Linked DNA regions of Homo sapiens: region 2 is linked to region 1. A link means that fine-mapping ties the variant in region 1 to the expression of a gene that starts in the linked region. Tissue or cell type: T cells. Region 1 holds a variant in brackets; the other region holds the start of a gene. All regions are shown on one strand. Distances are between the middles of the regions.

Region 1 (5,229 bases):
AAGAGGTTTCTAGATAATTTAAAAGTCCACTTTTAGGCTTGATTATTTTAAAATGCTTATATGTCAGATCTTCAGTTTGACCAGTTATTTTGTAGATGCTTCATGGAATTTTGAAACCAAAATTCTCTCCTTCCCTTCCTTTAGTGATGAGGAACTGAGGGACATTGTTCTCCTTACCTGGAACCCTGCTTTCTCGAATATAGTGTAGTATATCTCCCCAACACATATTCCTGCTTCTTGTAGCCTGGAAGTTGGAGATGTAAGAATGGGCACCGTTTCCCTGCTGTCTTTGATTTGCATAATTTGGCAGTTCGTCCTATTTGTCCCTTCTCTATTAAACATTCAGATGCTTTCTATGCAGATTTGCATCCTTCAGTTTGGCAAAAATGGCAAAATAGAAAAAGTTACTCAGTTTTTAACAACTAATAAATTGCTATGATTTTTATAGTTATTTTTAAGTACCTAGTTTAAAAATGAAAATTATAATAAAGTCATATTTGTATTTTTGGTGGGGAGGGAAAGATATCAGAATTATGAGAATTACCCCACTTTTTGGTTCCATCTCCCAGAAACTCTGGGATTCTTGAGTTCAGATTTTTTGTTGATTTCTTTAATTCTGGATGTCTTCAACCCCCTAAATAGTTGGATCTCTTTGCTATAAACTAAACTTCCTGACTTTTATAATAAGAGTCTGTCCCCTATGCTTACAGGACCTTATTTCTTCATATCATATTTTTACATACATTATTTCCTGGCTTTCTAGTCCTTTCTATTTATAGAATTATTTATCCTATTTTTCATATCCTTATTTGACCTCCTCTTTTTCCTAAGAAATGTTATGATCTTGTCTCACCTCAAGACAGCTAATGGCAGCAGTCACTGGCAGGTTGGGTTCTGTGCGTGTTGATAGGGTAGATCCTTTAACGTGCACACTACCCCTAGGACTTGGGGGGCAGGGTTGGGGGGCGGCTGTACTGGCATTCTGATGCTTCCCTTCATGTCACATTTCCCATGATGTAATCAGTGACACTCATCTTTAGACTCCCAAGTTCACATCATTGGCTCTTAAAGAGGATCTTGACTTATTTGATTCATCTGTGCTATGTTCTTTGATGAAGACACCTTACTGTTCGCTTTGAGCAGACCTCTCAGAAGCCGAGTAGGCATGGAAGGTGGAAGGGAGAACCACCTCTAGTTTGGCCAAAGTGACCCAAGCATTTCATTTTGTTTCATTCCTACGGACCACACATCCTACGAGTTCATGTTGGTAGTCATGAGAAGACCACTAAGCAGAACATTAGGTAACACCAAAGTATGAGACTTTTAACGGGAACTCAGAATAAGGACTTTGGTATCATTAAAAAATAAAAATAAAAAATAAACTCCTTAGCTCTTGTTTATCCTGTTGCATTTAAGAAGGTAAACAGCAAGTTTAGAGTTTGTATTGGGGAGACAGATGAAAATATGTTGTTTATTCTTAATTTGAGATCTAGCCTGGTTAGATTTACTGATTTACTTTCTGAAAAGCATCTTTTTTTTTTTTTTTTTTTCCTGAGATGAAGTCTCGCTCTGTGGCCCAGGCTGGAGTGTAGTTGTGCAATCTCAGCTCACTGCAGCCTCTGCCTCCCAAGCTCAAGCAGTCCTCCCACCTCAGCGTTCTAAGTCGCTGGGACTACAAGTGCATATACCACCATGCCTGGTTAATTTTTTGTATTTTTGGTAGAAACGGGGTTTCACCATGTTGCCCAGGCTGGTCTCAAACTTCTGAGCTCAAGTGATCCACCCGCTTCAGCCTCCCAAAGTGCTAAGATTGCAGGCGTGAGCCACCGTGTTCAGCCCTGAAAAGCATAATTCTTATACTTCTAACTATAAAGCATTCTTAGATACCAGGGACTTTCACATATATTTTATTTTATCTTCCTGGTCACACTTTAAAGAGTCAGTGAGACACATGGATGAAATTAGGACAGTTTTGTAAGACATCAAACCTGGGTGTAGATTCATAAAACTAGTCTTACAGTACTTCTAGAGTTAATTGAATGATACGAGAATTCCTTTTAAATGTCAGATGTATCAGACCAAAATCTGTTGGCTTTTAAACTTGCTACTATGTATACTTACAAGCAGGGTTTTTTAAATTTCAATTTATGTATTTTTTTCTTTTCAGTGTTGTACATCAGTACACAGAAGAGACGGATGTGAAGACACCAAGAGAGCAACGCTTTTCATAGTTGGATATATTTTTTTATGAATTTTTTCTAATTTTTGCTTCTTTTGTGATACAATTTGTCCTCTTTTTATAATAGTTGGTGATTTTTCACTGACATGTGAGTAAGATAAATGTATACAATTGTGGATTTAATTGTGAAATGTTCTTTCACTTGTAAGTTTCAGTCATTTTCTTTTACCTCGTTGTCAGTGTACAGAATGCTAAAATAATTAAAAAAAGACAAAATATACCTCTTCCTACAAGATTATTTAACTTAAGTTTCGAGAAGTGTCATTTCATTTGACTTGCTTTTCTTATCCAGCTAAAATGATGCATATATTTTATATATTGTATGGACATATAATTAAAACATTTTGGAGGAATCCTCCTTTATTGCATCCTTTTCTGTTCATACAGAATCCTTG[C/G]GTGAATATGTTCTACAAAGGCATCCAGTTTCAGTCTGAAGCTACAAAAAGGGGCCACAGGATCAGAAGTTCAGCCACTGATTGAGTCACCTAAATAAAAAACAGAATTGGAAAGCCAAGAGTGCCACTTGCACATAAGGAGTGGGAATTCGAACTGAGGTGCTGGAGAAATCCTAAAGATGAACAAGATTTCAGTGAGGAGAAAGCCCTCCTGTCAGTGGTCCCCCTGCATCTCCTTATGCAATTAGACTTTTTAGGTTTCCCTGCTCCCTTTCAGGAGCATTGGCATCAACGTTATTCTCTCAGTTTATGAACACAGTAGGGGAGGGGCCATTCCTGTACATCTCTCACAGTCAGATTAAAGCAAAGCCTAGAGTTTGTAAACATAATTCAGGTTCTAATTGCCGAGCTGAGATTGGGAAAGAATTTTTCCTAACTCTGGTCTAGCAAGTGGCTGTAGGGAGGCCTTTCTCAAAAATCAGCTGTATTTGCCTTTGACATTGTCCAGGAGCAGAGCACCAGGCTTTATGTTGCTTGGCACAAGGCAGCTCCTCTGGTTATGTGACTCCTGCTGAGAGGATTTTCACAATTTATTAATGAGCTTTCCACAACCCTGCTTTATTCTCCAAACAGTTTTACGCTGTCTCTAGGAACAACAAATATATCTGGGCACTGTGGTTGAATGAATACCAGACAATTGTGTGAATGTTGTATTGGACTTCCTCTTCCCTCCCTTCCCAATCTAAATAGCATTCCTATTTCAGGAGCCGATGGTGTGATTCGAAACAACTGCTTGGTTGAAGGATGGGGGGCAGGATCGAGAAGGAGAGAGGGAAGGGGCAGTGCTGATTCTGGAGAGGTGTATGTAGTGTTTTGTCTTGGTTTATTTTAAAGATCAGAGAGTAATTGGAAACAATTATTTTTTAATTAATAACTTGGGAAAGGTGAACAGAAGCATTTCACAGGGTTTTACCGTGTGCACACTGAAAATAAAACACTTTATGCTATGCTTCAATAATTTATCACTTCTTGACAGGGGCTTGGAAAAGGTCCAGTATGTAAGTACAAATCACCAATTTGCTCTTTTATAAATGAGTTCTTTTAAGGAGAAAATGGATGGCTCTCCAAGTGGAGCATACATGTTCTCATTTGTTTTGTAGAATATGTGGGGCTGCAGGTTATTGTGTCCCTTCATTCACTTATATCAGCCACCTCTAAAAGCAATTCCATTGTAGTCTCCCACTAATCTGTAGCGTCCTGTTTTTTCTAACTTCTTCCCTGACCTCGCCTTTGATATATAAGTCTTTATTTTCCCCTTGCCATCTCTCTAGTTTAATAGCTCTACAGTGGAGTACTGTTTTCAACCATGGAACTACTTTTAATCAAGATCAACTTTGGGAAGTGCTGCCATTTTTATGGTAATAAAGGACTGTATTATGCACTTGAACCCGCTCAAGTTGTCCCCTGTGTATACCTTCACATAGTAGAACCATGAAACAAAGTGTAAATGCTTAAATTGCTTTGTTCTTAACTGTAGTCTCCTAGAGGTCAGTGAATGATTTCTAGTTGCATTGTAGCGAAGACATTTGTTCCAGGTTGAAGAATTTTTTACTTGAGAACATACATTTTCCCTGTCTGTGTGCCCCCAAACCCTGTCTGCCACACTCTTTCTCTTGGGCTGTGACAAAACAGAATGTTTAGCGAGAAACAAAATTGTGCTCGATTTTCAGACTATCTGACTTCATTTTCTGTTTTGGTCTTTGAGCTATTCCTTGGCTAATCTTCCAACAAGTCGAATTGATTCTTATTTCAAAACTGTTTATCCCAAAACAGAGCTGTTGACAAGTACAAATACAGATGGCAGACATGTGGTATGATTTTCATGTTCTCATCTCAGCATTCAGGAAGGGAATGTTATTGAAAGATGGTTTACATCTGAAGCTTTCTGCTCAAGGCAATATGGAATGCATGCTAGGAGCGCTTAATTATGCTTAATTAATAATAGTAACAAATGCTTACGGGATTTCCTTAAGGTCTAAAAGTGCAGCAGCATTGGACTTGCTGTGTAAGGCTTACCGCCCCGGAGGCTATAATAATCTGTAACAATAGAAGCAACCTCTAGGGGGTAAAATTGTCTTTGATAATCACTGACTCTTGGGTGACCTCAGTACAGCATTCCAGGCCAAAGATCCAGAATGTTCCCTTACTGGGGGCAGACACGCCTATGATTGCACTGACCTTTGTCCTCCGAGCAGATGATCCTCCAGAGTACTGGCTAGCTCTTAGATTCAGAGGTAAATCCCAGCCCATGCTGTGGCCTTGCTGTTCCCCACAGCCCAACTGCATTAACTATAATTTTTTTTTCTCCACAAAAAGAAATTGTTGGTGAAAGGAAGACAACCTTCAGTTTTTCTCCCCACCGACCTGGTTTCAGGAGGCCGTGTGCTCAGTGGAGTGTCTCTGCCTGTCTTCGCTAAGCTTGCCCCTGACCATTGTGGAGGTAGATGCCACCTAAGAGTGGCAGGGTTAGTCCTGACCTCTGGGGTCTGAATATCCAGCAACTATCTTAATTCCAGTCGCTGCTGTCTGTTGTAC
Region 2 (5,229 bases), 25 kb after region 1:
TTGACTAAATTTATTATTAAAACAAATGTCTTTTGTTCCTTTTCACGTTTTTTAAAAATAAGGAGAGTCCAATTTTTTTGTTTGTTTGTTTTTGAGACAGGGTCTCACTCTGTCGCCCAGGCTGGAGTGCAATGGCAAGATCTCAGCTCACTGCAACCTCCACCTCCCAGGTTCAAGCAATTTTCCTGCCTTAGCCTCCAGAGTAGCTGGAATTACAGGCACGTGCCACCATCCCTGGCTAATTTTTGTATTTTTTGGTAGAGATGGGGTTTCAACATGTTGGCCAGGCTGGTCTTGGACTCCTGACCTCAGGTGATCTGCCTGTCTTGGCCTCCCAAAGTGCTGGGATTACAGGCGTGAGCCCCTGCGTCCGGCCTAGAAAATTTTAAATTACATATGTGGCTTGCATTCTATTTCTATTGGCCAGCACTCGTATAGAGTAGCCTTGTATGTGTTCTTGGTCAGATTCCCAGGGAGAGTTTCTGTCTCAGCCCTGAGTCAGCAGGGCCCTCGCCTGTGATGAATGCCCCCCTGGTACAATCAGCTTTGTCGGGAGAGTGGCATAAGATGCGCTGCCGGCTCAGCAGAGGCTGTGGGTGTGGCAGGCAGGATAAGGCCATGTCTAAGATATGGTGTCCTCCTGATTTTCAACAAGAAATATTACATGAGCAAATGGCAGGATTATTTATTGAGCCATGCAGGTGCGCTCTCTCTACCTTTGCACTCCTCTCCTCATTCTAATTGGTAGTTGGGCCTTTTGAGAATCCGTATATCCAGGGAGTTTGTGTTTCAGGGGCAAAGCTGAGGTGTTGGAGATTACCACTCTACCTGTGGTAGGTGGATTATGCCAGGTGGCCCAGGGTAATGGGGTGAGAGTAAAAAAAAAAAGGAGAGGAGGGACACTTTTGTCTCTAAGACTGGGATAGGAGCAGAGTGGAGTGGAGAAGAGGTTAGCCACTCTCCTGCTAGGGGCAGAGATCTGTGTCAGGACCCAGTGGAGGGGGTGGGAAGAACCCAGGCCACAGCCTTGCTGAAGACCTGAGCCCCTTTTTGGCATAGAAGCCTTCCAACTAACAGTCTTCAAGTGACCACATGAGCTCTGAAAACTATCATAACAGCAGCCATGGAAGGAATGTATCCTAATTTTCTAGACCTCCCAGAATTTCTCATGACTCAGTGGGAGATTGAGATTGCCTCCAATCCTAGTGGGATAGAAGCTTAGAGAAACCAAATTGAATTTGTTTGCTTTTGTTCTGTGTGTGGGGAATACTGGTATCCTAGGCCAAGGAAGCCCAATTTCCCTTGGTGTTTATAGGATAGATAGTCTCATTTACACTTGCAACAAAAGGCTTAGCAACCTGGTCCCTAAGCCAGTGCCTTGCCTATTCAGTCACTCATAGCTTTAGTTTTTTCTGAGTGGAGACAAGGCCTAACAGTCAGAACATTGCTCTCTCTGCAGCCCCCTACTCCACATCACCCAGGACTATCAATCCTAGGATTCTCTCTTGGACGCCTTGCATTCAAACAGCCACCAAATCCTACCTCCACCTGATCTCCTGATCTCCCAAATCCATTCCTCTCTCTTTTTCTTCATTGTTAATGTTGCAAGCTTCTAGGTGATGCTGGTGTTGCACTCTAGGGACCACACATTGAGGAACACTGATCTATAGGCTCTCTGGTATTATCAGGTGTCTCAGCAGATTCTTAGATGAATGAAAATGTGAACTCCAGCTTTAGTGCAATTGATACGGGAGGTGCCTATGCCACGTGTTATTTTTTTGTACCAAACGTTGCTCTTGGGCTAACGTATCAATTCTATTTCACCAAGAGTAACTTCAGTCCACACTGACTCAAGAAGCCAAGAATGCTGAGATGCATTTCATTCAAACATTCTCCCCTTTGCAGGGAGATCAAGATGGAGGCATCCAGCTTCTGCCAAGGATGTCAGTGCCAGTCCTGTGCAAAACCAGTTCCGGTTCTTTCTAGTTCTTCACGCAGGCTTGAACAATGATGTGACTGTAAACCGTGTGTGTGTGTGTGTGTGTGTGTGTGTGTGTATGTGTGTGCTAATACGATTTAGGTTGGATTTGGACACTGAGGAACAGTTCCTGGAGATGCTGAGGATTAGTGGTAGCAGCTGTTATTCTCCCCATTAGAGGAAAAACTGAAAGGAGAAGAAAATACTTATGTTTAAGGGATGTGTTTGCAACTCTGCGGGAGGAAGCCATTCTATCAAGCCTGAAGAAAACTGTGTTCCTAGGTAAGTGGATGTTTTTATTTATTTATTTTTGTAGAGACAAGGTCTCCCTGTGATGCGCAGGCTGGTTTTGAACTTCTGGCTTCAAGTGATCTTCCTGCCTCGGCCTCCCAAAGTGCTGGGATTACGGGTGTGAGCCACCATGCTCAGCTCCAAGTGGATAGTTTTCAGGGTTCAGGTAGACAAGATGCTAGTGGGAAAGAAGACACAGTGAAACCTAAGGCAGGAGGGTGGGAGGTGGGGCTGTGGCCGTAGTCTGTGAGTCCAGGCACTCACTCCCCTTCCCTTGTAGGCAACTGTGTCTGATCTGCCTTTGGAAAGACCACTTGCCATCAGCAAGGACTTGAGGAGCATTTTCATTTCATTTCTTTCTTTTCTTTTAAGAGACAGGGTCTTGCTCTGTACCCAGGCTGGAGTGTAGTGATGTGATCATAACTCACTGCAGCCTCGACCTCCTGGATTCAAGTGATCCTCCTGCCTCAGCCTCCTGAGCAACTGGAACTATAGGTGCGCACCACCATGCCCAGCATTCAAGGGGCATTTTGTATGTGGCCCTTATGAAAGAAAATGAGAAGAACCCTGAGCCCCCTTGACTGAGAATGTGCTTTTACACAGTTCATCTTCATTATCTCCTAATGTGTCTGAGAAGCTGTAGCCATGGTTCCTTGTAGTATGGAGATGTGTGACTTTGGTGCTTCATAGAAAACAAACTTAGAAAAGAAAGGCATTGTCTGAAGGACTCTTATGTCTAAGAAATTTGAGGTATAGATCATATTCCTGTCTTCTTTTAGCTTGTGAATGTAAAAGGTGGTGTTGTGTGAAGAGACAATGGGAGTGGAGGACACTTGATTATTTGGTTTATGGATTATTTCCTTAGTCTATTGTTCTGATAGCTAGTTTTACTACATTTTCAGGATTTTATTTTCACCTTTTAAAACCAGCTGACTACAGGGGAGGGCATTTTTTTTTTTTTTTTTTTGCCTTGCATTGTTCCTTAGGTCAAAAAATTAGCCAAACTTCTAAAATGCCTGTGTGCAGGACTATAAAAAAAAAAACAGAACTTTTTTTTTTTTTTTTGAGATAGAGTCTCGCTCTTTTGCCCAGGCTGGAGTGCAATGGCATGATCTCAGCTCACTGCAACCTTGGTCTCCCAGGTTCAAGCAATTCTCCTGCCTCAGCCTCCCGAGTAGCTGGGACTATAGGCACATGCCACCACACCCAGCTAATTTTTTGTATTTTAGTAAAGACAGGGTTTCACCGTATTGCCCAGGCTGGTCTTGAACTCCTGTGCTCACGCAATCCACCTGCCTCGGCCTCCCAAAGTGCTAGGATTACAGGCGTGAGCCACCGCACCTGGCCTAAAACAGAACTGTTAAAAAATGCCTGTGATAATCCTAAATATTTATGTAGGCAGATTTTCATCTGCCTTGTTTGCTATCTCTCATTTTATTTTTGTCATCTTCTTTTACATTGCCAAATTTTAATTCTTCCTCTTGATGGGAATTAGAGGTAGTAAACAAAAATAAAATTTACTCTATAAATGCTATTTTATTCAATCATTGTATTCTATTCCTGAGCCAAAATTGTTATCAGTATGTTTAAGAAGTTATAGAATAAATTGAGTATTTCTTTCTCTGCTCATCTTCTTTACTAAAAGTAGTGAAATAGCTAAAAACAGCCAAAGAAAGGGCAAAGAGATATCAAAGCATTGCCAGCTTAACAGTCACTTCTAAATAATTGATAGTTGGTAGATGTTTTGTAGCACTTAACTTGGTAATTTTCAATTGCAACAGAGATAAGATGCTCAGCCAAGCCATCCCATGCCATGCTGCCTGACCATGGTGGTGTATTGAGTGTCTACTTCAGATAATGTATCAGAGGCCACACCGCCTTTGGGTACCAGTCAGCTTGCAAGGAGCTCACGCTAGGATACAAACATTTTCTGGTTTTATTTCTTTGACTCAATAATTAAAGCCTCTCTTTTGAACAACAACAAAAAAAGCAGTCTGGTCTTATGAGAAAATTACAAGAACAGAAGTTTTTAAAAAGGTGTTTGGAAATGAAACACTTCCTATAGCCTGGCATTTCCTTTTGATCTTGGCCTTGAACATTAGCAATCCTGGGAGGCTGCACTAAAAGCATCTCAGGTACAGAGGCAGTGTGGGGTTCAGGTTAGTCACATCCCGAGAAGACTTTATGTCGTTTTCCTAAATAACGTCTGGACTGAAGCTGCTGTTTGTCATGATACAGGAGAGGGCAGGATGAGGATGCAGGCTGCCCTCGTGGGCTGGGCTTGTACCACCCTCTGCCTGGCTTCCTGCTCATCTGCCTTTTCCCATGGTGCCAGCACGGTGGCCTGTGATGACATGCAGCCCAAGCACATCCAAGCCCAGCCTCAGCACCAGGACAGCCACCACATCACCATCCACACCCACAGGACTTCCTATGCACCAGGTGACAAGATTCCAGGTATGTACCAGAGAGGCTTAGAGAGACTCCGAGGAGCCCCAGAGCCCCCATGGACCTTCCAGTTTGTGTTTGTCCCAGTCAGAAGCTTCCTGGACTAAATTTGGCTTAATCCCTTTTTTTTGTTTTTTGTAGAGATGGAGTCTCACTGTGTTGCCCTGGCTGGTCTGAAACTCCTGGGCTTAAGTGATCCTCCCACCTCAGGCTCCCAAGAAGCTGGGACTACAGGCACATGCCACTGTGCCCTGCTAATTTTTTGTATTTTTTTTAGAGACAGGGTCTTTGTATGTTGCCCAGTCTGGTCTCGAGCTCCTGGGCTCAAGTGAACCTCCTGATTCAGCCTCCAAAAGTGCTGGGATTACAGGCACAAGCTACCATGCCCAGCCTGGCTTAATCTTAAGAAGCAATTATCAGGTTAAAAATAAGCATAAAATATTTGTGTCATAAAAACCACATGATAACTAATCTCTGTATTAATTGTGATCTGTATAAGAAGACACAAATAT

The links. PIP is the estimated chance that this variant, and not a neighbour inherited with it, causes the effect.
Region 2: REELD1 starts here. The variant in region 1 is fine-mapped to the expression of REELD1 in T cells (TOPMed, PIP above 0.99).

What each region holds. Positions count from the first base shown.
Region 1 is chr4:146,187,455-146,192,683 of GRCh38, forward strand. LSM6 (LSM6 homolog, U6 small nuclear RNA and mRNA degradation associated) reads left to right here. Exons shown (of 4, transcript NM_007080.3): 4 at 2,168-4,081. The coding sequence ends at 2,202. Among named protein-coding and RNA genes, the nearest start is that of LSM6, 14 kb to the left of the region's middle. The variant C/G (reference allele first, on the strand shown) is at 2,635.
Region 2 is chr4:146,212,435-146,217,663 of GRCh38, forward strand. It overlaps REELD1 (reeler domain containing 1), which reads left to right and starts at 2,104. Exons shown (of 8, transcript NM_001354631.1): 1 at 2,104-2,260; 2 at 2,642-2,764; 3 at 4,508-4,726. The coding sequence starts at 4,519.